Linked DNA regions of Homo sapiens. The protein of the gene in region 7 purifies or fractionates together with the protein of the main gene of each other region. This does not show direct contact. Each region holds a gene or a part of one and is shown on either strand. Other genes may lie near its edges.

Region 1 (3,500 bases), on a different chromosome or scaffold from region 7:
AAACCCAAACAGACGCTCTGCTCCTGTACCGTCTGGAGCATCTGGGGAGTGAGCTGCCCTCCAACACCCAAAACAGGAGGCTCTGGGATGAGTGTTCCTCCTCCCTCCATGCAGAAGCTCGAAGGCTGGCACTGCAGCTCTCTGAGGAGGTGGCCCCACAGCCAAGGCAGCCCCCACAGTGGACCGGGCAGGAGACACTGGGACCCTCAGCTTGCTCACAGTGAGGCCTGCAATGCACACGCAGGAGGGACCACAGTCAGCTCGAGGCTGTCTTTAGTGGGATGCTGGGGGGCTGGCTGCCACCATGCGCTGAGTCCCACAGGATGAGGCCCCACCCTGGATGGCCACCTTCCCTAAGGCCCCTGTGCCTACCAGAAAAGCCACTGCCCCTTGCATGATCCATGGGCAACCCCAGCCCCAAGTCCTCCTCTCAACAAGTCCAAGCTCATCTGAGGAGCTCCCACTTCCCCTGAGCTCGGCCCATCTGGAGCAAAGAGGGTGGCCCCAGGGGCTGCAGCAAGTAATGCAAACCAAGCCTCCTGGAGACAGGGGCTGCAGGTGTGTCTCGCTGACCAGGAGGCTGGCTCCCTCCATCATGGTCACAGCCCGTGGCACTGCTAAGTGTAATCAGGTGCAGAGTGGTGGGCAGCCCAGCCAGCTAACCCGACCAGCAGAGCTGACCGTGCTCGGGGCCCAGGCCACAGCTGGCGGGGGCAGTGTTGGGGGCCAGGCAGCCCTGCCAGATGCCCTGCTCTCAGACCCCTGCCGGGGACAGCCCAGCCCAGCACCCGCAGCCCCTCAGCACCCTCCTCCAGAGGTGTGGATGCAGCTGAGCCCAGAACTGGCTCCCAACTCCTGTGCTCCCTAGGAGGCTGGTTGCTTTGGATTTTATATGGATAGAGGGTAAGAAAAAGATGTTGTTTCACACTGTTTTCGAGCAAAAGTGTTTATTTTTCTCCTTCAGATATACAATCTATTGGGGATTCCGTGCCACTGACCACCATGTACAAGGAAGGGATTCACAGGCAAGGGGGACAGGTGAGGGCAGCCCCCACTTCACTCAAGGAACAGGGCAAGGGGGCCCAGTACAGAGAACAGAAATCTCTTACGACAGCATCGTGCCCTGGCAGAAGATTCTGCATAATCACCTAGAAAATTCAATTCTAACTGAATTGATGGAATAATAGATTTGAACCAAAATAATTTACCCAGTTCTAATAAGTACAGAAACTATACAATTCACAGCTGGGCAGTCCCAAGCAGTCTGCTTTCCAGTGGGAGGTGGAGGAGGCTGGGGCCTTCCCCTCCCACCAAGGGCTGTGTTGTGCCCACTGGGGACGAGTCCCACTGAAATCTCCAGGAGAAGAATGACCCCGCCCTCCGCAGAGCAGGCTTAGGGCTGGACGGGAGAGCGGTCTGCATGCCAGGGGTGAGCAGAGCCACAGGTCTCCATGGAAATCATGGAGAAGGGAGGGAAGTGGGCAGGAGAGAGGGCAGCCTCTCCAGCTGGAGGAGCTGCACTTGTCTCCACAGGGTGGGCGGGCAGCCAGGGTTTCTATGCCCAACACACACCTTATCCTCACTCACAGCAGCCCACTGGCATGGGGGGCATGTCTGCTCACCTAACGTTTTCTGGCGGATTTCTCATGGCCCAGCGCAACAACTGACATTCCCTACTGAGCAAGCAGCTCCGCCAGTGTGCCCTGCCCCAGCGTCCCGCCGTCTCTCAGCCCCTGGATGAGCCCAGGGAACCGGCACTCTACTGAGGACAAAGCAGGGCTCACCTAGCAATGGAAGCTCTTCAATACTTAAGGTAGCTAATTCAATGTTTGTAAAAGGCATTTACAACAGAAAACCAAAGATTGAACTTCAGCTTCAGATTTGTAAACCATTCACATCTCTGCAACTTAAAACAGTAAATAAAGATTATCAATGCACAAGCCAATTGCAAATGAAACCTTTTCCGATAATTTTTTTTAACATATCTTTTCATCAGGGAACGGAAAAGCTGGCATTCAAGGCACTGTACTTCTGCAGGGTGACGACAAGGTTCTAACCATCAACTCAAGTATAGGAAGTGGGTGTGGAGACGGCGCGTGGACCACAGGAACCTAGGAGCGAACAGGGTCTGAAGCCGCAAAGGAAGCAGTCTTGCTGCCCACCCGCTGTCCCCCTCGCGGCTGAGTGCTGTGCCCACAGCAGGCGGTGGGGGGGACTCGGAGGCCAAACCACACCTGGTTTCTCCGGGCGGTTCCGAGGGCGCCATCTGGCAAGGGACAGGGCAGAAGGCTACGTGATCCGCAGCCGGGGGCCAGGCATGCTGACCACAGGTGGCTGCAAGAAGACTGGCAGCACGGGCACCTGGGGGGTGTTCCAGCTGCCCTGTGCCCCCAGCTGGCCCACCTGGCCTGCCCAGGGCCCCCAGGACACTGGAGCTGGGAGCAGGCCTCTGTACTGACCCAGAGGCAGCGCACAGGGTGGGGTTGGGAGGTTGGAGAGGGCAGTACCTGGTGTGGGCACGGACAGGGTCGGGGCGGCTCCGGGAATGACCGTGGTGGACAGAGGGCCGGGCGCTGGGGGCAGACGTGGCATCCCCACTCCTGCTCGAGGTGCGGTCATCTACAAAACACAGAGACGAGAAGAGGAAGGTACACGTGGCTGCAATCAGCTGGCCTCCCTTAGTGGCCCCCAGGGTGCCACAGTTTCTCCATCCTCAGGAGGCAGCAGTCCTGGAACCTGCTGTGACAGGCACCCTCTCAGGGCTGACACCAGAATGATGGTGTGGGGCCAGGAACCATCACCCTCCCTTGTTTGCTTCCCCAAGCTGCAGCCTGATAGCCTCTAGGCCACACACCTGGGTGTCCACCAGCCAAAATGGGACTTGGAGGAGGACTAGTGGGGCCTGGACCCTGAGGGCGCATGAGTGACCCCACATGCCTCTACTCAGCCACCACAAAGCCCTCCTGCTTGGCTGGTCAGTGCCCTCACAGGAGCATGAACCACCCAGGAGCTGGCAGGAGCAGAGCCCCAGGACCTGGGCAAAGCAAGTGTGCAGGGAGGTGATGGCAAGGCAGCCCTTCCACTGTCCCAGCCCGGGGAGAAGCTGTATGCGGGGTGTGCCCCAGGAAGGCAAGGCTGCTGGCCACGGGGAGTCACTCCTCTCCACTCCAGGGAGGGCCCCACTGGGCACTCTTCACAGGTGCATGGAGGGCACTCGGTGACTTCCACAACCCTTCCTGGAAATCAAGCTCGGCAGTCAGGGGCTGGAGGGGCCTCCTTATCTGGAAGGTCCTCTATGGAACCGACAGCTGAGCCCCTGCCCACGACAAAATGCCCAATACCTCCCCAAGGTGCCTCCATGCTTCCAGTCGACACCACGGGGATCTCCAGGCGGGGAGGAAAAGGAGTCAACCGCACAGACTGGACAGAGAGAAGGAGAACTGGCCTCATGCAGATGACAAGACTGTGTATGCAGAAAACCCACAAGAATGGACAAACCA
Region 2 (3,500 bases), on a different chromosome or scaffold from region 7:
TAACCCAGTGGAAAAAAGAAAACATTGCCTGGCCCAACACTGCCACTTATAATTTAACAACCATTGCTCTCTCTCGACTTACAAAAATTCTGGCCAATATTATTTTTTATTTCCTATCAATATTAGATAAATATGGAATGAGTACATTGCTTTAAAACATAAACTCAATTTGAAACATTTACTATTACTGCCAATAAAAATGTAGCACATAACACTACTGAAATCTTACATTAGTTCATAAGCCTATTTGATTAATCTTTGTCTACCCTACTAGACTAAGTTTCAACAGAACAGGGGCCATCTGTTTTGAAAGACACAAACATTTAAACTAATGGAAAGACACAAACATTTAAACCAGTGTTGCAGAACAGAAAGACCCATCATGATAAAGATGTCAGTTCTCACAAAGTTAATTTAAAATGTGATACAATCCCATAAAAATACCCCTCACTCCTACCCATGGAGCTAGACGAACTGCTTAAAATTCATTTGGAAGAATAATAAAATAAGAATGAACTAAGAAAACTGATTTAAAAAAAGAGCAAAGCTATTGTTATCAGATTTTAAAGCATACAATAAAACATTTCTAATTAAAAGTGTGGTACTAAAAAAGTATGGTACTAACTCATGGACAGATGGATCAGTGAAATAGAAAAGAAAATCTAAAAAGAGACCAAACTGTATATGGAAATTGCTTTATAACAGCACAAGTGAATAAAATTCAAAGGGATAATGAAAATAATTTTTTAAAAATATATTTCCTTGTTTTAGAAATGTAAATGTTATTGCATGATTTCACATATTTAATACTGTATAAAGTTTCACTGTTCTACGCTCTAATTTTCTGCATTTATTACCACTTCTAAGGATCTTGCTTAGTTACCAAATTAGAGCTGTTCTTCAGTAATGCTATAATTATTCAGAAAACAACTCTTGCATAGAATACAATTTACAATGATAAAAGCAATTAAAAGTACAAAAGAAGAACAGTGTACCTCCTTTTAAATCTTAAGACTGAATAAGCTCTTTTTATTTTCTTTCAAAAAAACATGATCATAATAAATAATGGAACTGGTTATTACAAAAAGCAAACACATACTCTTTAGTGAATATCCCCCGAGGGCCAGTGGCTGTGCCCTGGCTAGCATCCAGTGAGTGTTTTTCCAGAATATTGCGGGCAGCTGGACTTAAACGGAACCTAAGAAAAAAATATGAAGGTTAATAGAACCAATTAACACTTACATTTGATTCAAATAGATCTAAATGTCAACAGTTTCGCAAATAATTAAAAAAAAATCTTATAATAAAGCTAAAATGACTCCCACAGATGGTCACAGTCAAATAATCTGTACCAATTTGGTTTATTTTATTCTTTAAACACTTTCGTAAAAATTTAGTTACTATTTCTAAATATGATTTTAATAAGAATAAATATTAATTAGGGGAAAGAGCTGCTATTTCAACTAATTACTTTCACATGGGTGCTCATCACAACTACCAATTGTTTCCTTCGTATATTTTGTTCTATCATTTCTTCATATATTTTGTATTGTGGCAAATGATACCTAAAATTTATCATTTTAAGCATTTTTAGGTGTACAACTGAGTGGCATTTAGTACAATCACACTATTGTGCAACCATCACCACCATCTATCTCCAGAAATGTTCATCTTTCCAAATTGAAACTCTGTATCTATTAAACAGTAACTCTCCATTCCTCCTTCCTCCCAACCCCTGGTAACCATTCTCTTTGTCTCTGTCAATTTGACTACTCTAGGTAACTCACATAAGTAGAATCATACAGTTATTTGTTTTGTGACTGGCTTATTTTACTGAGCATAATATTCTCAAGGTTTATCCATGCAGCATTTATCAGAATTTCCTTCCTAAAAAGCTGAATCACATTTCATAGCATTTTGGACTTATGAGTTGTTTCTACCATTTTGCTACTGTGAATAATGTTGCTATGAACATAGATGTACAAATATCTCTTTCCAGTCTTTGCTTTCAGTTATTTTGCATATATATCTGGAAGTGGACCTACTAGATGATATGGTAATTTTAATTTTCTAAGAAACTGCCATACTGTTTTCCACAGTAGCTGCAGCATTTTACACTTCCACTAGGCAACAACAAGGGTTCCAAATTATCCATGTCCTTGCCAACACTTGTTATAATCTGGGTCTGGTTTGGTTTTTGTTTGTTTGTTTGTTTTGATACTAGCCATCCTGAAGGGTATGAAGGGGTGTCTCATTGTGGTTTTGATTTTCATTTCCCTAATGGTTAGTGACGGTGAACATATTTTTCATGTGCCTGCTGGCCATCTATGTATCTTCTTGGGAGAAATGCTATTAAAGTTCTTCACCTGTTTTTTAATTGGGTTGTTTTGCTGAGGTTGAATTGTATGTATACACAATTATATATATTTATTATATATATAGGATACCTCAGATTACATGACTAATGGTATATCTCTTGTATGCAAAGTAGTAAACAAATTACTACATGGTCAGATAAAGAAAATAAGCCTGATTAGTACAGATTAAAACAGGCTGGATCTAGAAATTAAAGCTAAGAGACAGAAACAACTGTGGAACTTGCTGCATTTCAGGGAAGTATTAAATAACTCTGATATGGGCCCAATGTTACTAAATCTTTAGATTTTTCAAGAGAATCTGAAATTTTAGATTTTTATATAGGATTAGTAACCAACCAACCAAAAAAAAATTTTTTTTTCATTCACTGTGTGCCCAACAGTATGCAGAGTTCACAGGTCAGTAGGTTTTTAACCTACACAGTGGGGCCTGATTCATGCGAGTCTCTGATGATGACTGATCTTAATTAGGGTACATACTATTATTATCTTTGCAAGGGCAGAAGACCATTAGTTAGAAAGCATCAGTGAGACTGTCTTCCAATTTTTAGGGTAAATGAAAGAGGAGACAGTAAATGGGAGTCAAGGCAACAGAGTCAGAAACACTGCACTAGGAATTTAAAATCAGTACTTCAAAAAGCAGGCCAGGCGCAGTGGCTCACGCCTGTAATCCCAGCACTTTGGGAGGCCGAGGCAGGCGGATCATGAAGTCAGGAGTTCGAGACCAGCCTGGCCAACATGGAGAAACTCCATCTCTACCAAAAATACAAAAAAATTAGCCAGGCATGGTGGCACATGCCTGTAATTCCAGCTACTCAGGAGGCTGAGGCAGGAGAATCGCTTGAACCCAGAAGACCGAGGTTGCGGTAAGCTGAGATTGCACCATTGCACTCCAGCCTGGACAATGAGATCAAAACTCCGTCACCCACCTCCGCACGCCCCCCCCTAAAAAAAGCACTGTGGATTCTTTTCTGACAATGATAAACTAAAGGAAAAAATGTTTAAGAATGAAGAGGTCTACTTTATGAAGATCTTTTTCTCGTAAAGAAAAAGTAATGTTGTATAATTATATAGAATACTAAATAAATGAAATGTTAGAATTTACAGAGTTCTTCTATTAAAGCA
Region 3 (3,500 bases), on a different chromosome or scaffold from region 7:
CAGCCCCAGAGAAGAGCTCCCTGAAAGAGCTTTAGGATCTGGCCCTGTTGTTCAACAGAGGGCTTCAGGATGGAACTGGTATCTGAAGGTTTCTTTACTGTAGTTTCCAAATTCCAATTTAAGCACTTTTAAAGTCTGGTGTCTGCTGGTCTTCAGAGTCATAAACCCACTTCTCTAATATCCCACAGCCATGACATTAGCTTACAGCAAGACCAGAGTATTCACAAAACATGAAAAAATGAGCATTTCCCAATTGTTGACAGCAGAGCAAGGCTTCTGTAACTAGAACATGTCCTGTGTATTGAAACCCTGCAATGCCTCCTAGAAAAGGTTCCTTTATCATCATGTGTGTTGGCATGTGTAGAAAATAACTATACAAGCCTAAAAGCAACTGTGTACTTCAGATGTCTTGCTCATACTAACAGACTGACTGCTTTAGGGCATGCATGTAACACAGCCTCCAAAAGCCTTTTTTAGAAGAGGGCAACAGCTCTTCGAATCTGCTTGCGTTGCTTTTAAAGTCTGGCCCTCCATGTCTGCTGCTCTCGGGAAATTCACATAACCAGATGCATTTCTCCTTACAAACAAGCGAAGCAGGGTGGCTCACAGAGTAATACCCACATTCAAATTGCCATCAATGACTGACCTATCAGTGTTGGTAGGATCTCCCCTAGCTTGTGCTGAAGGAGGAACAAGACATGTGAGCTGAGGACTCCAAAAACACAAATCCCCACTTCTTACTAGGAAATTGAACCATACTGAGTCATGATACAAAAAAAAAAAAAGTAACAAAACACCCATAACTAAAGTATAAATTCAACTGATCCTTTGAAATCAGAGTTTTAAAAGAATACCCTTGAAACAGTAAAGCAGTTAGAAAGAAAAACCAGAATTACTAGTGTTCTCTTTAAACACAGTGGGAAAACACCTCTTAACTACTATTTCATTTTGTTCACATTCAGAATGTTCAAACCAGAACCTAATGATCCCTACTTGTCAATAATATGGGAAGCTCTGGTTGCCATGATACGTTATATTGTTTTCTTTTTATTTTTAAAACCACATTCCCTTGGTGATATCTAGTGAGAAGGTGTGATTCTAGTTTGTGTTGAACAAATGTTTTTAGCTCTAAGGTGTTACACTGTAATTGAGATGTTTCCAACTACTGCTTAAAAGAAGACATTGGCAAATGCCTGCCTTAATTGCAAAAAACACATGAATTCCAATATTACCTTATTGATCTTCTGAGTACACATCTATTATTACCATGGCTGTGAGATCATTTAAGAAACAGACAAATGTCATTTAGAAACAGACTATAGAATCAAATCACAACTAAAGAGAATGCTTTATGATAGCTCAGACAGTGGTAGGAAATCAAAGGCAAATTCACATTTTTGATTACTCACCCTAAAATATGCTGAAATTGAACATTTGTGACCCAAGTAACTAAAAATACATTGAAGAAAACTATAACTTAACTACATATTGAGTTCATTTCAATCGCAGTAGTCTATTTTAAAAACAACCTCCCATAAGGAATACAGGAATGGAATCCATTGAAAGCAACAGCTGTCAAAAACTCTGCCAAGAAACTCAGAGTAACTTATTGCATCATAAAAGGTGAGGTGTTCAGGAAAACAAATAGCTCAATCATATTCTTTTCTTTCAGATTCTGTCACTTCAATCTAAGAGAAATTTCTAGAACTAAACTCCCTAAAACATGTTTTCAAATTTAAAGACTAATTAAGTCAATGAAATTCAACATGATAAACAGAAAAAAAAACCCTCCTAATCTATTTTTAGTATTGATAGAGGGTAGAGAATCTAACTCAAAATCCATAAAATCAGGTTGGCGCCCCAAATCTGCCACTAGTTACCTCTTTCTATGGATTTTTTGGGCCAGGAACTGTTGTTTCTTAGGGCTTTGGTTTCCCCACATGCAAACTGCAAATGATGGGTACCAGTCCTGCCCAGCTCTGACATCCTATTCTCCAGTGACAGTAAGATGGGCACAGCTTCCAGCTAAGCTGCCTCCTCTCCCAATCATGCCCAAGCACTTGTTTAATATTTGTAAAGCAGTTAGATCCTTCCAATTAAGGCAAATATCTGCCTCAATTACAACATATACATTCATTCCAGATATCTACCTTTTAGTTTTGCTTTGATGTCTGCTGGATAGGAAAGTGGCAAAAGCAATATGCCACATACGAGAGATGCCGAGGGACCAAATAAGCCAGCTGTCAGCTACTACTGTGCTTTCATCTGTGGGACTGTAGGATCCCAATGGGGGAAGACCACTTAACAGCAAGGTAATTCAACCCCTATGGATGGGGACAACATTGACCTTCTGTCTATAGAATTCTCCCCAACAGGCAGGTCTAACTTTGGAGTCGTTTTATGGAAGAGGTATAATGGTGATTTCAGTAATTCGGCCATCTTATAAATCACATTAAAGGCTCACAGAAATATTATTAGGCGTTACAATCCTAAATTAAAGTGCACATCCTAAGAAAACACAGAAAGAGAGGATGAGCACTACTTAGGTAATAATAATAGTAGTGTGTCATTACTTGTGTGTTATGCACACACATTTAACTGTTTTTTAAAAATCCACTTCTAAGCAACTAATAAACTGTGGTTACAGTTGAGTCCACCCAAGAAGGTAGGCATAGATATTATTAGTGTGTGCTCGCCTATCTTAAAATATTGATGAGATTATGAAACTCAGGGGAATTTGATTGTCCAATGCAAGTTTTTTCCCTTAATGAAAACCAAGCCAACCAAACAAAACCCCAACCTCCCAATCTGGCTCACTCTGGCACTGACTTCATGGAGGGGAGGGGAAAAGCATGTCAATATTTTTAAAATGAATACTGCAGACTAACATTCCTTAGTTTATACGTCTGCCTAATGGAAATGAACTGCTATCCCAACTGAGAGCATATGTACTGGAAGATTATGAGATAAAGTGCACATGCTAGTCTTTCCTGGATTGAATTTACCAAAAGCCAAACATGCTGTGAAACGTCTGCAATCAGAACAGTGCTGATAGCCGGGCGGGTGGCTCACGCCTGTAATCCCAGCACTTCGAGAGGCCAAGGCGGGTGGATCACTTGAGGTCAGGAATTCGAGACTAGCCTAGCCAACATGACAAAATCCCATCTCTACTAAAAATACAAAAATTAGCTGAGCGTGGTGGTGGGTGCCTGTAATCCCAGCTACTCGGGAGGCTGAGGCACAAGAATTGCTTGAACCCAGGAGGTGGAGGTTGCAGTGAGCCGAGATTGCGCCACTGCGCTCCAGCCTGGGCGACAGAGCAAGTCTCCATCTCAAAAAAACAAAAAACACTGCTGATAAAATTTGTTGTAGCCCGTAGATCTCAGAACATGGAAAAAGCAGTTGCCTAAAAATTTGTGCTGACCCATTCATAATCTTCGGAAGAGTTTAAACTTACTCCCAACCCTTCCCCCACAAAAACAAAAAAGGCAGCAAATGGG
Region 4 (3,500 bases), on a different chromosome or scaffold from region 7:
CTGAGGGGACACATACTCATAACCTCATCTAACCCTAAATACCTCCCAAAGGCCCAACTTTCAAATACCAACACAAAGAGGGATAGGGCTTCAATGTATGAATTTTGGCAGGGGGTGGGGACACAGATAATCAGTTCCTAACACACAGAAAAGGAAGTAGAACCTGGATTATTAATGGCTGCTATCTGCCCATGACAGGCAGATTTCTAAGAAGACCCACGTCCCTCCCCTAAGTGAAGGCAGGACCCGTGAATATAATGAGATGTCACTCCCATGATTGCGTTATGGTACGTAAAGAAGGTGTAGGGATTTTGCAGACGCAATTAAGGACTCTGAGCAAATCAAAAGTGACATGATTCTCAGCGGGCCTGAACTAATCAGGTGAGTTCTTTAAAAGAAAGACTGGGGTCATCACCAAGGTCAGAGATTCTCTTACTGGCCTTGAAGAAGCAAGCTATCATGAGTTTTACAGCTGCAATGAAATGAATTTTTCCAACAATCATGTAAACTTGGAAAAGAAGCCTGAGCCTCAGCTGAGCCTTTAATCTTGACTGCAGTCTTGTGAGACCCTGAGCAGAGACCCACAAAAAGCCATGCCTGGACTCCTACCCCATGGAATCAGTGATATAATAAATACAGGAATACACAAGGTTTTAGGCGGCTAAGTCTGTGGTGCTTTATTACACGGCACAGAAAGCCAATATGCTGCCACAACAAGCTTACTTAAAAGACAAGACCTAAGAACAATTCAGATAGATGGCAAAAGGTGGGAAAAGCTAACTAAATAACCATAATTTTATGTTCCAAACTAATGCTGCTTAAGAGTACAGGATCACAAATTCTTGCCATCCATCCTTCATGCTCCTTAGCTCATGAGCTCCTCTGTGCTTGCTTTATAATTATTTTTTACGTTTAGCTTACCCAGGCCTTTCTACCAAGGACATAGAATAAGACAAAGCTGGTAGGCCGAGTGCCCTGGCTCACGCCTATAATCCCAGCACTTTGGGAGGCTGAGACAGGCGGATCACAAGGTCAAGAGTTCGAGACCAGCCTAGCCAAAATGGTGAAACCCTGTCTCTACTAATCATACAAAAATTAGCTGGACGTGGTGGCGGGCACCTGTAATCCCAGCTAATTGGGAGGCTGAGGCAGGAGAATTGCTAGAACCCGGGAGGCGGAGGTTGCAGTGAGCCAAGATTGCACCACTGCACTCTAGCCTGAGCAACGGAGCAAGACTCTATGTCTCGAAAAAAAAAAGAAAAAAAGAAGTTTAAAAAAAAAAAAAAGACAAAGCTGGCCATTTAAGTTAACAGCTACTATAGCCTAAGTATTTCTTCATGGTCAAGTTAACTGGGAATACTATGAAGGGACAGTAAAACATGAAGGCAAAGCTATGATGTGGTTACTTTCTCTATCTTTGTATTCAAAACATAAAATTTGGCAAGCTCACTGAAAAATACCGCCCAATTCTAATTACCTCATCAAACAACAAAATAATGGCTTCTTCTAAGACAGCTCCAATGATTCATTTCTTGTGAAATCCCTTCCCCTTAAGTGTGTGCTAGATTTATTAACTCACTTCCAATGAGCTCAATATAGTCAAGTGATAGGTGGTCCCTTAGAAGGTCACTTTTATAAAAAGCCTGTGGCTTTCATCGTGGGGACTCTCTCGGCTCACTCCCCCAGGGAAGGTGCTGCCAGGTACTGCAGCACTGCGGAGAGGCCCAATGGCAAGGAGCCAAGGCCTGCCAGTGACCCACCAGTAGGCTTGGAAACAAACTTCCCCTTCTTCTCCCAAGCTGAGCCTTCAGCTGAAGTCACAGCCATGGCTAACCATTTGCAACCTCCAGGGCGACTGGAACCCCGTTAAGCCACACCCAGATTCCTGACTCACAGAAACTCCGAGGTAATAAATATTTGTCATTTTAAACCAGGATGTTCTGAGGTAATCTGATATGTGGCAATGGATAACTAATACCACCACCAAATGTAAGGTAAAAACATTAGATGCTTTGAGGCAAGAGTAAAAAAAAAAAAATTCAAAAAGAAGACAAAAGGTCTCACCTTAAGCACTCTTCCTGAAAGGCCAACAATCTCACCATCCTTTGGCTCTACTTCTGTAGCAGTATTCACATCGCCACTTCCTGTTGTATCAATGATATCAACGATTTTTGGTTTTCCATCAGTTGTAACCTGAAAATTAAGAAAATTAAAATATGAATGGTAGATTTTAGGTTTTTATTCCTAAACAATGCAAATCCACATATATATGTGTGTGTATATACAAAATCTACATTCACTTAAAAAAGAGAACTGAACTGTTTTAAGCCAAAAGCCTGAACAAATACTAGTAAGAAAATTTAATCGTGGAAACACTACAGAATCCTTCAAGTCGTTTCATATATTCAATAAACAAATATTTACTGAGCATTTACTATAGACCACACCCTATTTTAGGTGCTGGGGATATGGCAGTGATCCATACGCAAAAATCCCTGACGATCTTATAGCGAGAAAGCAGTTCAGTTAATAACAAAGTAAAATAAAGAACATGTCAGATGTGCTATCACACTGGGTATTAGGGAAAAAAAAGAACATGTCAGATGGTGAAAATTAACTATGGAGAAAAATTAAGCAGGGAAGGGAGATGGTCAGTGTGGGGTTTTCAACATAAGTTTGGCTGGTCAAGGAAGGCCTTGCTGAGATGGTAACATTTGAGAAAAGATCTAAAGATGGTGAGCTGTGGGCTGGACAAGTTTAGAGCTTTAGGGGGAAAAAATGTTTAGTAGTAATGGTACCATTTAATGGCACCATTATTGGATGCCACACTAGCACCTCAAACGCAACAAAGTTCAAGCTTAACATGCCCCCCACCACCTGATTTTCTCCAGGCTTTGCCATCCCAGGAATCCCCACGCCCAGCTGTTCACACTGGAAACTTAACAATCCTCCTCTGATTCTTTACTTCAGTTGACTCCTCACAGCGAAGCTAACAGGAAATCCTGTTAATTCTTTGTCTAGAAGAGAGCTCAAATCCATTGCATTTTCACTACCACTATCCTAACTTTCCAAACCACCACCATCTCTTGCCTCCATGAGGTGAATTACCTAAGTGGTCCCTCAGTTTCCACTCTTGGCCCCATCAAAAGTAATACAGGCTGAGTGACCCTAACCTGAAAATTCCAAATGCTCCAAAATCATGGACATGAAGTTCAAAGGACATGTTCATTGGAGACTTTCGAATTTGCGATACTCAACCTGTATTAAAACAAGCTGTATTTTATCAGTCCTCTCCTTTAAGCCCATCAATGTATTCATGGAGCACTCAGAATACTCGCATAAAAAGCCTCGCACCATCTGACCCCTGCCACCCCGTTACTCAGGAGTCTAACCACGCCAACCTCCTTTCAATTCCTGAAACATGCCAAACTTTTTCCTGCCTCATGACTTTTTAAACAGGTTCCTTCTGCCTAGAATTCTTTATCTCTTCAGTTGTTCCA
Region 5 (3,500 bases), on a different chromosome or scaffold from region 7:
AACCAAGTCCCGTATTATTAAGAATATTGTATTTATGAATAAGTCAACTTTAAACTACAAAATATCCCCCATACTAATAATATTCATTTCTTGGTTTCTAATATATACTTATACATAACTATATATGTACTTTATACATAGCTGTAATAACTTTTATGTACACTTTTGTATTTTTTTCACATATTTTTCCAGAGTCATTATGAAACTTTAGGGCCATTACACTTAGCATTTAAAATAGGTAATACATTCACATGGTTCAAAAATGAAAAAATACACAAAGTGAACTGTTTTCTCATCCCATTTCCCAACCACCAAAATCCTAAAGTAATAAATAAGTAGTCTAAATTTCAGGAGGAACGCCTCTGTTTTTCCATTAAATATAATGTCTGTTGTTACTCTTATCAAGGAGAATTAAAGACAGCTGGAAAACCTGTAAAACTTAAATACTTCCATTTTCACTGTTCTTGTTAAGAGGCTGCTCTCCTTTCTTGTCAAAGAAACTGCTAGTGTTATGAGAAAGAGAAGAATATCCTAACACGTACAGTACACACAAAAACTATAAAAACTAAGACAAATTTATTCAGCACCTGGTTCAGACATCTGCTTTGGTTTCCATTAATAGGATCTCTACTATCTGCCAGGCATAGCCTGTCTAAAAGGCAATTATTACCTGATCTTCATATCCTTCTATCTTCACAGGCGTGAACTGATCCATGTTATACTGGGCAAATGCACTGTTTTTTTTTAAAAGTTTTTTAAAAAAAAAAAAAAAAAGAGGGAGAGAGAAAAGAATTATGTGTAAATAAACACAAAAGGTGGTTCACAGAATAGTGAAAGGAAATGTGAAAATAGTACCCTGTACTTTTCCCTTCTCCCCAGACATCCAGTGTTAACATAATGCCTTCCAGCTTTCTGAAGGGACTCCTCTCTACGGAGATCTTGGAAGCTCCTTAAACTCTGAAATTACCTTTTCCTCTCTGCTCCTGAGCTCCAAAAGACCTTCTGCTTAGACAATTCCAAAGTTGGTTTGTTTTGAGATAGAGTCTCACTACGTTGCCAGGCTGGCCTCAAACTCCTGGGCTCAAGAGATCTTCCCATCTGTTTCCTGAGTAGCTGGGACTACAGGTGCACACCACCACACTCGGCTAATTCCAAAGTTTGAAGCAATCTAATTATTGTGAACTGCCAACAATTTTAATCATTTGGGCAGAAGCTTTCAGTAATTCAAAAGAATCCTCCATTGATACACTATTTTGGAAATGATCTTTTTTCTTGGCTCTCAAAGTCACGAGAAACTATAATTAAATGTCAGAAGGCATCTGACATGCGAAGAAGGTGAAGTGAGAGTTGAGCATGAGTCAAGTATAAAAGTAGAGCCTCAGGCACAAAGTAGTTATTTTTAAAAGAGGAATGCATAAATAATCAAAGTACATGCCTAATATTACTATTTGTCCAAAGCTTGATTTTTGAAATTCTGCATTTTTAATGGCTCTCTAATACATTTTACAAAGCTAAAGCAAAAGACAAGATAAAAGAAAGATGGAAATAAGAGCTACACTTATATTCTTAAAAAGTATCAGTCTTCTCACAGAATTCCCAATTTTAACCTATTAAAATAGACTGCTAGTTTTTTTTTTTCCCCATGTCAGACAGGTAATGTGCCAACATAACAAGGTTTGAGGGAGGCACATCTCACACATGCATGTGAAAACTCAACCATCACACTTATGAACTACAAAAGGATGGAGACCACTAGTTTTAAGCAGTGGTTAAAACTAGGCTTCTCAAGATAAAGCAAAGTAACAAACATTTAAACTTCTTCAAATATTTAAAGCTTTTTTTTTTTTTTTTTGAGATGGAGTTTAGCTCTTGTTGCCCAGGCTGGAGTGCAATGGTGTGATCTTGGCTCACCACAACCTCCACTTCCCGGGTTCAAGCGATTCTCCTGCCTCAGCCTCCAGAGTAGCTGGGATTACCATGTGCCACCATGCCCAGCTAATTTCTGTATATTTAGTAGAGACTGGGTTTCTCTATGTTGGTCAGGCTAGTCTCGAACTTCCAACCTCAGGTGATCCGCCCACCTCAGCCTCCCAAAGTGCTGGGATTACAGGCATGAACCACCGTGCCCAGCCTCTAAAGCTAATTTTCAATCTTATTTTGTTAAAAGTTGTTACTGTATACTTTGTGTATTTATTTTTTTGGGGGGTGGGGGTGATGCAGTCTCACTCTGTTGCCCAGGCTAGAGTGCTGTGGTACGATCTTGGCTTACCGCAACCTCTGCCTTCCGGATTCAAGTGATTCTCCTGCCTCAGCCTCCCAAGTAACTGGGATTACAGATGCGCACCACCACACCCAGCTAATTTCTGTATTTTCTTTAGAGATCGGGGGGAGTCTCACCATGTTGGCCAGGCTGGTCTCGAACTCCTGACCTCAGGTGATCCACCCACTTTGGCCTCCCAAAGTGCTGGGATTACAGGTGTGAGCCACCACACCCAGCCAAAAGTTATTACTGTGTTTTACTCCTTAAAACACCACATCCCCATGTAGCAAAATTAATCCCAAACACATTAGCTCTTCAGAAAGGATACAATTTATTCATAAAAAGTAGAATAAATGTTAGTTTAAAAAAAAACGAGTAGGAAGTAAATATTTTATTCTAGTATATGTCCTAAGACTATAGATTACCAACACCAACACCAAAATGTCCTTACCTTTAATTCCATCTCAAGTAAACAGCATCTCCATTTTACCAGCTGCCTAAGCCAAAAACTTGGGGTGATCTTTGATTCTTCTCTTTTTCTCACACTTCACATCCAGTCCATCAGTAAATCTTGTAGGCTCTACTTAAGTACATATTCAGAATCTGACTTCTTCCCACCACCCCCACTGCTACCACTCTAGTCCAACCAGTAGCATCTATCCCTGAACTATTCTCATTGTCTTGGAATTACTCATCTTACCTCAGCTTTTGCCCCTCTACACAGGAGCTAGTGATTATTCTAAAATATAAGTCTCATTATGTTATTCTCTACTCAAAACAATCTTACTTCCTATCTCTGTCAGAATGAAATTCACTCTTTAACATAACTTACAACACCCTATTTATTCCAGAAGCGCTGGAATTATCTGGGGATGGTTCTGGTGGCCAGAAACTGGTGGAAATCCAGGAAAGATGGTAAATCTTAGCTACTTCAAGCCCTTCATTTTATACAGACTGAAGGCAATAATTATGACAATGATTATGAAAACATTAATTGAGCAGTTACTATGAGGACTATGGCCAAGGGACTGAAATGCTTTAATACAGAAATAAAACTGAATTTTTCTTCTCTATGGAAAATCAAATATTTGGGTCCAGGAAAATTCTCTTAACAAGAGGGTTCCCCAAGAACCTATAGTCTATAAGAACCAGAATAGTTATAAATACAAAGCTTTAGTGTCAGTGCAATTAAAGAAAATGAAGTATCTGAACTACATACCAACTTCTCTTAATCTTAGCC
Region 6 (3,500 bases), on a different chromosome or scaffold from region 7:
GACATCCAAGAAACAATGAAAAATTCAATTGTCACAGCAGAGGGACAGTGGAAAGAGAGTAAAACATGGAAAAAGGAATTTTTACATATAATCTTTATTTTTCCCATGAAGCACAGAGGTGTTTTGAAATAGAAGTAACAATCAGCTTTCCTTTTTTATAAAGTTGAATCTGTTGACAATGTGGAGGATGGACTGGCATAGAGACTGGCGAGAAAAAATTCTAGGCCAGGCGCAGTGGCTCATGCCTATAATCCCAGCACTTTGGGAGGCCAAGGTGGGAGGACTGCTCGAGGCCAGGAGTTCAAGACCAGCCTGGGCAATACAGCAAGATCCCATCTCTACAACAGATTAAAAAAAAATTAGCCAGGCATGGTGGCATGTGCCTATAGTCCCAGTTGCTCAGGAGGCTGAGGAAGGAAGATTGCCTGGGCCCAGGAGTTTGAGGTTTCAATGTGCCAAGATCACACCACTGTACTCCAGCCTGGGTGACAGAGCAAGACTCTGTCTCTTAAAATAATAAAAAAAGAAAAAAAAGAAAAGTCTGTAATGAGTAATCAGTTGCAATAGTCCAAGTGACAAATGATAGCTTTTTTCAGATGAGGCAACAGGGATGGTGATAAGACAACTTCAAAGACCTAATAGTAAGGATCGGGTTTATGATGATGATTTTAACTAAAAATGAGATAACATATCTCTGGAAGAAACTAGTTTTAGACTCATGTTTTAGAACAGAGATTTCAAAAGGTTCATTCTGGGAATGTAAGAGGGAATATAATAGCGATTGCAAAGCACTCTGAACTGGGTGAGACGTTATAAAACCATATTAGGATTAGACACATCCATGGTAGTAATGTCTTTGAATCTGAGACTGACTTTCTATCATGTTAATTTCCCTGTGTAATGAAATGAGAATTCTTTAGAAATGTATTATCAGATATTTATGCTAACAGGTTATTTGGATACCAGCTGTCTCGTAACACTTTAGTAGTTAAAGGTAGTCAAGTCCAGAGAGAAGCTGGGAAGTATGTTACAAAACAAGGTTTAAGTCTTAAAGCACCACCCTATTTATCCTAAAGAGCTGAGAAAGAATGTAGGCTCTAGAACCAGAAAAACCTGGGTTCAGATTCCAGCTCTGTCACTTACTAGAGGTATGGGCCCACATAATTCATTTATTCTCAGTTATATCATCTGTATATTGGAGATAACAATGTGTATCTCACAACATTGCTACTAGTTCCTGGCACAGAGGTGGTAGTTATATTATTGTTACAAATAAATTTTTCCTTGGCATGTTTCTTACAATAGAAAATACCATACTTACTGCCAATTGTTTACATAAGTCATTGCTTCTTAAAATATGCCAAATGTCCAACAATGATAGACTGGATTAAGAAAATGTGGCACATATACACCATGGAATACTATGCAGCCATAAAAAAGGATGAGTTCATGTCCTTTGTAGGGACATGGATGAAGCTGGAAACCATGATTCTCAGCAAACTATTGCAAGGACAAAAAACCAAACACCACGTGTTCTCACTCAGGTGGGAATTGAACAATGAGAACACATGGGCACAGGAAGGGGAACATCACACACCAGGGCCTGTTGTGGGCTGGAGGGAGGGGGGAGGGACAGCATTAGGAGATATACCTAATGTTAAATAACGAGTTATGGGTGCAGCCCACCAACATGGCACATGTATACATATGTAACTAACCTGCACGTTGTGCACATGTACCCTAAAACTTAAAGTATAAAAAAAAAAATTTCCTCTAAAGCTCCCTTAGCCACAGAGTAAAGTGAAACACATACCCAAAGATTTGGGTATATAATCTGAAGCCAGCATAAAATTTTTAAGTTTTATCTTAATTATATTAGTGTGCATGCTGCACATAACCACATTTAATGGTTCAGATTTTAACTCTATAACATCCCTGTTGCCTCATCTGAAAAAAGCTATCATTTGTCACCTGGACTATTGCAACATATTTAAACATAACCATATTTAATAATAAAATGTTAATCTTCAGATAAAATTGGCAAACTAAGAAAATGTACCAGGTTTATACTACAGCAATGCCCACAATACAGTGCCTCAATTACCTCAAGATGTCTCAGATTAGATGGCATACTGTACAGATTATGCTGCCTTTGGCAAAAAGCCAAGAAAAAGCAGAACTACTTAACCTAAAACATAGACCTTTCCTATAGGCAAGAAAAATTTAAAAAATAAGTCCTTAAGATACCTACCTATACATTTTGTCCTGAAAATGTACTTGCAGACCTGCTTTAAGTGAAAAAAGCTTAAAATGTGGGCTATAGCTGGAAAAATAGAAGAAAGTAATAATTATGAATCTAAATTGTAAAACTTTACCTGTTTTCTTCTTTTTATCAGAAGTAGCATCCAAAGTAGTTAAGGGAGTAGAGACGCTTTTATAAGCATCTTGACTATATCCAGGATCATCTTCATCAGAAGAAAATGAAGATAAATGTTCCAAGTTTTTAAGTTCATTATCAACTTTATCTGATGGACTGTTACCGCCAGTTTCAGACACTAAAGGTGTGGGTGTTGTAGATGAAGGCTTGGGAAGTGGTGGGGGACAAAATGTACGAACCATCTGGGTCCCTGGCCGTCTAGTCCTGTTAGGCATTCGTACAGCAAGAGTGGAAAACTGCTGCTTGGGCCCGGATTTCAGAAAATCTAAGAAAGAAGCAATAAATCCTGTTTTGACTTCTGGTTGTTTTTCCTCCACCTCTTTGATCTTCTGTCTCATTTTTTCTTGATGCTGATAACCATCATGGCAGCTTTCTGAGGAAGGAGGAGTATACGGTAAGTAAATATCTGTTCCCCTTGGATTCTGGCGTTTGCCTTGGGCAGGTCTTTTCAGCTGTTTCTGATTACTGTTGTCTTCCTCTTTAACTTGCCCTTTTCCTTTAGCTCTTTTCTTTTGAAGGTTAAAATGCATTAAATCTTGGTTTTCTTCTTCAATCTTGACACTGACTGCATCCCCAGATTGGGCCATGGCCAACAGTGCAAGTGCACTCCTAGCTGGGTTCATTGACACACCACTGTCGTCACCCCCTAAGGTAAATTCACTCTCTGATGTAGCATTCTCTCCACTTATACTTCTACTACTAGAAACAAACTCTTGGTTTCTGTTATTATTTAATGTACTATCAACAGGAGCTTCACTGTCTTCTTCAGATTCAAGATTGGTAGCAGACTGTTTCTTGAATGGGCCAGAACTTTGCTCCTGGACTTCATGACTTGGTCCAACCACTGCTGAAGTTACTTTAGTTGGTATATTTTGACCAGGTGTTTCAATGTGCTGTTGATCAAGAGTCATTTTTGACTGAAGGGCAGGTACTGGTGAAAGGTTCACAGTAACCTGATTTCCATTTAAGGAAGTATCATTTATATTCTGTGGCTTTCCTACTGTAGCTGTCATAGAGTTAAAATCTGAAGTCACATGCCTGACATCTAATGACTGCTGAAAAT
Region 7 (3,500 bases):
TCAAATAGGAATCTCTGGTAGACTCAAAGAGTACAGCTGATTTGCCATTTCAGAGTGAAAAGGCTGCACTGTCTCACCCTGCCCCCAAAGTCTAACCTATCCTATTTTAACTGGTATTGGTAAAAACTATTTTTGCAATTCCTTGCCGAAAGGAATCAAACGGATCCCTTTAACATGTACATATAGTTCCATTATAATGCAATGCAGGTAACACTAACTTGATTTCAAGAACATTGTCAAAACTGGGGTACACATCCTTCTATTAGAAATGGCTGGGGGACAGCTGAGAATAAATTTATGGAATTACAAATTATGGGAATACTGGACTAAGTCAAGAATGGTTACCATGTAGCCATTTTTACCAGCTATTCTAGAGTCCCTTCACACATAAACTTGACCCTGCATTCCGGGAAAAGTACCTCTGGGTTGTCACTACAGAGTAAGGCTGGGGTCCTGCCAACCTTCCTTCATCCTTTCTTCTAGTTCATAATAGGGAAGGTGAGCCATTTCATTCATTCATGTTTTGTTTGTTTTGTTTTTTTGAGACAGGGTCTGGCTCTATTGCCTGGGCTGGAGTGCAGTGACACGATCTTGGCTTAGTGCAACCTCTGCCTCCCGTGCTCAAGCCATCCTCCCACCTAAGCCTCCCAAGTAGCTGGGACTACAGGTGTGCACCACCATGCCTGGCTAATTTTTGTATTTTTTGTAGAGACAAGGTTTTGCCATGTTGCCCAGGTTGGTCTTGAACTCATGAGCTCAAGCGATCGGCCCAACACAGCCTCCCAGAGTGCTGGGATTCCAAGTGTGAGCCACCACACCCCGCCCATTTCATTCTTATTTGGTGAGATTGTCACAGACTTGGCTGAAACTTAACAAGAAACTGTTTACAGCAACAAAGGAAGCAATTAAAGTTAACATGATCATTCAACTGTGCCATTCATCATGCACTTATTGACATGCTCAAAATAGGGGAATGTTAAGTAAGGAAATGAAGTGGGAACAGGAACAAGGGAGCTAAGCCAAGAGGACTTCCAGGGACTTGAACAAAAACAATTCCCAACCACATACTACTTTTCAAGCATTTTGAAACTCTTCTTTTCCTTTAGTGATGTTTTCAGTAACAAACTTGCAAGTGTTCTTGGTGGTTAAAAAACAAAACAAAACTACAAGTATCAGCTGAGAAAGACAAAGAAAAAACTAAGAATTTAAATTAGATAATTCCATTTAAAGTTTCCAATTCCTCGTTTAGGTGGAGTTGGAACATTAGAACTCAGGGGTGGTTTGGATATTAACAAGGTACTCCTGCCTCCTCAGAAGCTACAGTCTTTTCTGCAGCTCTCTTATGTACCTCTCATCAAAATAATTTCAGTCCCACATTTCTCGGATAAAACCACATCTGTGGTTTTATCCAGCAACCATTTCACAGTCGACTGGCACGTGTTCTCCAATTTCAGTTCCAAACACACAACACAGAATCACACTTTTCTTTATTAAAGGGACCCAAGTGATTTTTAAGCTGTATTCTTCCTGCTAGAGAATGAATTGAGTAGCATCCTTCTCTAATTTCCTACAATAAAATTTCCTATGTGATATACTGCATATATATTATATCTGATATATGTTTTGATTATTTTTCTTTATGGAAGCAAATACAGAATTTCCTTGTCAGATCACTCTGATGATTATAATCTGCTACTTTGATTATGCATCAGTGAAATGTCCACCAAGCAGTTGAAAACACTGATGTACATGTATTCTAAAACTTACTAAATAATGGGCCAGTAAGATACCAGTATCTTTCTAGAACGTTTAGAAAGAGATCTTAGTTGCCAGAGAAAACTCAGATACAACATGAGCCTCTAAACACATACACTCTAGTCTACAAATATGAGACTTTTCAACTCAACAATAAGTGGGCCGAAAACAATATAGGGCGTATGACCTAGACTCCCTGGGTGCTGCTCAGCAGCTGCTTCAGCATCAAATTGTGTTCATCCCATTTTCTAATCTAACCAAGCACTTGGAACTAAAGGGCTGTATGTGAGCCCAAGAAACTGATATATTAAATATTTTTCACCACATATGACATCTTTCATTCAGTACTGCCTGTTAGTCAATTACTGTGGATTCTTTCAGGGTTCATCAATGCATGTGTGGCTCGATGGTTTAGGAATAAATATATTCTGGCTCAATGCTTTCCACTGAAATGAAAGGTCACAACTTCTATGTTCCCTATCAAATGTGTAAAGCAAAAACACAACAAACGAAAACAAGAAAGTAGAGTTGTTTGTTGATTATATACAGTCATGTGCTGCATAAAAACGATTCCATCAATGATGGACCACATATACCATGATGGTCCCATAAGATTATACCATATTTTTACTGTACCTTTTCTATGTCTAAAATGTTTGGATACAGAAATACTTACCATTGTGTTACAACTGCCTACAGTATTCAGTACAGTAACATGCTGTACAGGTTTGTAGCCCAGGAGCAACAGGCTGGACCATATAGCCTAGGTAGGTAGTAGGCCGTGCCATCTAGGTTTGTGTTAAGTACACTCTGTGATGTTCACACAATGACAAAATCACCTAAGGATGCATTTCTCTGAATGTCTCCCTCATCATTAAGTGGGGCATGACTGTATTTTTTTTTCTCTTTAAGGAAATAAGACCCTACTGTAATACAAGTCGGCAGAATCTAACTGTTACTAATAATTAATGTAATCCACAAGTCAAAGTTTTTTCATGCATCACCAAAAAAAAAAAAAAAAGTAATTTGCATGTGTTTGCATCCGTTTCTGTATTCAAAGAAGGTATGTAGAGTCTCCACCCATCATGTCTCCAGTGACAATTTTTTTTTTTTTTTTGAGGCGGAGTTTTGCTCTTCTCGCCCAGGCTGGAGTGCAATGACACAATCTTGGCTCACTGCAAAGTCTGCCTCCCTGGGTCAAGCAATTCTGCCTCAGCCTCCCTAGTAACTGGGACTACAGGTGCGTGCCATCACGCCCAGCTACTTTTTGTATTTTTGGTAGAGACAGGGTTTCACCATGTTGGCCAGGCTGGTCTCAAACTCCTACCCTCAAGTGATCCACCCACCTCGGCCTCCCAAAGTGCTGGGATTACAAGCGTGAGCCACCGCGCCTGGCCTCCAGTGAAAAATTTAAAAAGGATACAAGCTCATACTTGACGAAGTATTCAACTATGTAGTAAAATCACCATGATTTTATCCTGATTTGCACCTTGAGAATTAAAATAGTCACTTGATTAGAAGGGAATTATCAAATAACCAAAGGAAAAACATTTTGCTGGGCTGTTACAGAGATAATCCTGAATATTTGGAAAGGGGAATTAGAATGATCTCTTACTTTAAGAATTTCTGAACCAAACACCGCATGTTCTCACTCATAGGTGGGAATTGAACAAAGAGAACACATGGACACAGTAAGGGGAACATCACACTCTGGGGACTGTTGTGGGGTGGGGGGAGGGGGGCGG

The links.
Region 1: the proteins of AAK1 (region 7) and WNK2 purify together in Homo sapiens (affinity purification with mass spectrometry; one large-scale study listed by BioGRID and IntAct). This does not show direct contact.
Region 2: the proteins of AAK1 (region 7) and PDHX purify together in Homo sapiens (affinity purification with mass spectrometry; one large-scale study listed by BioGRID and IntAct). This does not show direct contact.
Region 3: the proteins of AAK1 (region 7) and REPS2 purify together in Homo sapiens (affinity purification with mass spectrometry, with the first as the bait; one large-scale study listed by BioGRID). This does not show direct contact.
Region 4: the proteins of AAK1 (region 7) and TPP2 purify together in Homo sapiens (affinity purification with mass spectrometry; one large-scale study listed by BioGRID and IntAct). This does not show direct contact.
Region 5: the proteins of AAK1 (region 7) and CAPZA1 purify together in Homo sapiens (affinity purification with mass spectrometry; one large-scale study listed by BioGRID and IntAct). This does not show direct contact.
Region 6: the proteins of AAK1 (region 7) and QSER1 purify together in Homo sapiens (affinity purification with mass spectrometry, with the first as the bait; one large-scale study listed by BioGRID). This does not show direct contact.

The regions. Positions count from the first base shown.
Region 1 is NC_000009.12:93,316,639-93,320,138, reverse strand, and holds part of WNK2 (serine/threonine-protein kinase WNK2), read right to left. Parts: intron 2,620-3,500; coding exon 2,508-2,619; intron 2,267-2,507; coding exon of another isoform or gene 2,065-2,266; exon of another isoform or gene 931-2,064; intron 1-930. UniProt on the Homo sapiens protein: Serine/threonine-protein kinase component of the WNK2-SPAK/OSR1 kinase cascade, which plays an important role in the regulation of electrolyte homeostasis, cell signaling, survival, and proliferation.
Region 2 is NC_000011.10:34,958,118-34,961,617, reverse strand, and holds part of PDHX (pyruvate dehydrogenase protein X component, mitochondrial isoform 1 precursor), read right to left. Parts: intron 1,199-3,500; coding exon 1,100-1,198; intron 1-1,099.
Region 3 is NC_000023.11:17,149,158-17,152,657, reverse strand, and holds part of REPS2 (ralBP1-associated Eps domain-containing protein 2), read right to left. Parts: 3' UTR 1-3,500. UniProt on the Homo sapiens protein: Involved in ligand-dependent receptor mediated endocytosis of the EGF and insulin receptors as part of the Ral signaling pathway. By controlling growth factor receptors endocytosis may regulate cell survival.
Region 4 is NC_000013.11:102,603,486-102,606,985, reverse strand, and holds part of TPP2 (tripeptidyl-peptidase 2), read right to left. Parts: intron 2,194-3,500; coding exon 2,065-2,193; intron 1-2,064. UniProt on the Homo sapiens protein: Cytosolic tripeptidyl-peptidase that releases N-terminal tripeptides from polypeptides and is a component of the proteolytic cascade acting downstream of the 26S proteasome in the ubiquitin-proteasome pathway.
Region 5 is NC_000001.11:112,650,832-112,654,331, reverse strand, and holds part of CAPZA1 (F-actin-capping protein subunit alpha-1), read right to left. Parts: intron 1,745-3,500; exon of another isoform or gene 1,644-1,744; intron 735-1,643; coding exon 671-734; intron 1-670. UniProt on the Homo sapiens protein: F-actin-capping proteins bind in a Ca(2+)-independent manner to the fast growing ends of actin filaments (barbed end) thereby blocking the exchange of subunits at these ends.
Region 6 is NC_000011.10:32,934,311-32,937,810, reverse strand, and holds part of QSER1 (glutamine and serine-rich protein 1), read right to left. Parts: coding exon 2,376-3,500; coding exon of another isoform or gene 2,252-2,375; intron 1-2,251. UniProt on the Homo sapiens protein: Plays an essential role in the protection and maintenance of transcriptional and developmental programs.
Region 7 is NC_000002.12:69,458,740-69,462,239, forward strand, and holds part of AAK1 (AP2-associated protein kinase 1), read right to left. Parts: 3' UTR 2,973-3,500; coding exon of another isoform or gene 2,928-2,972; 3' UTR 1-2,927.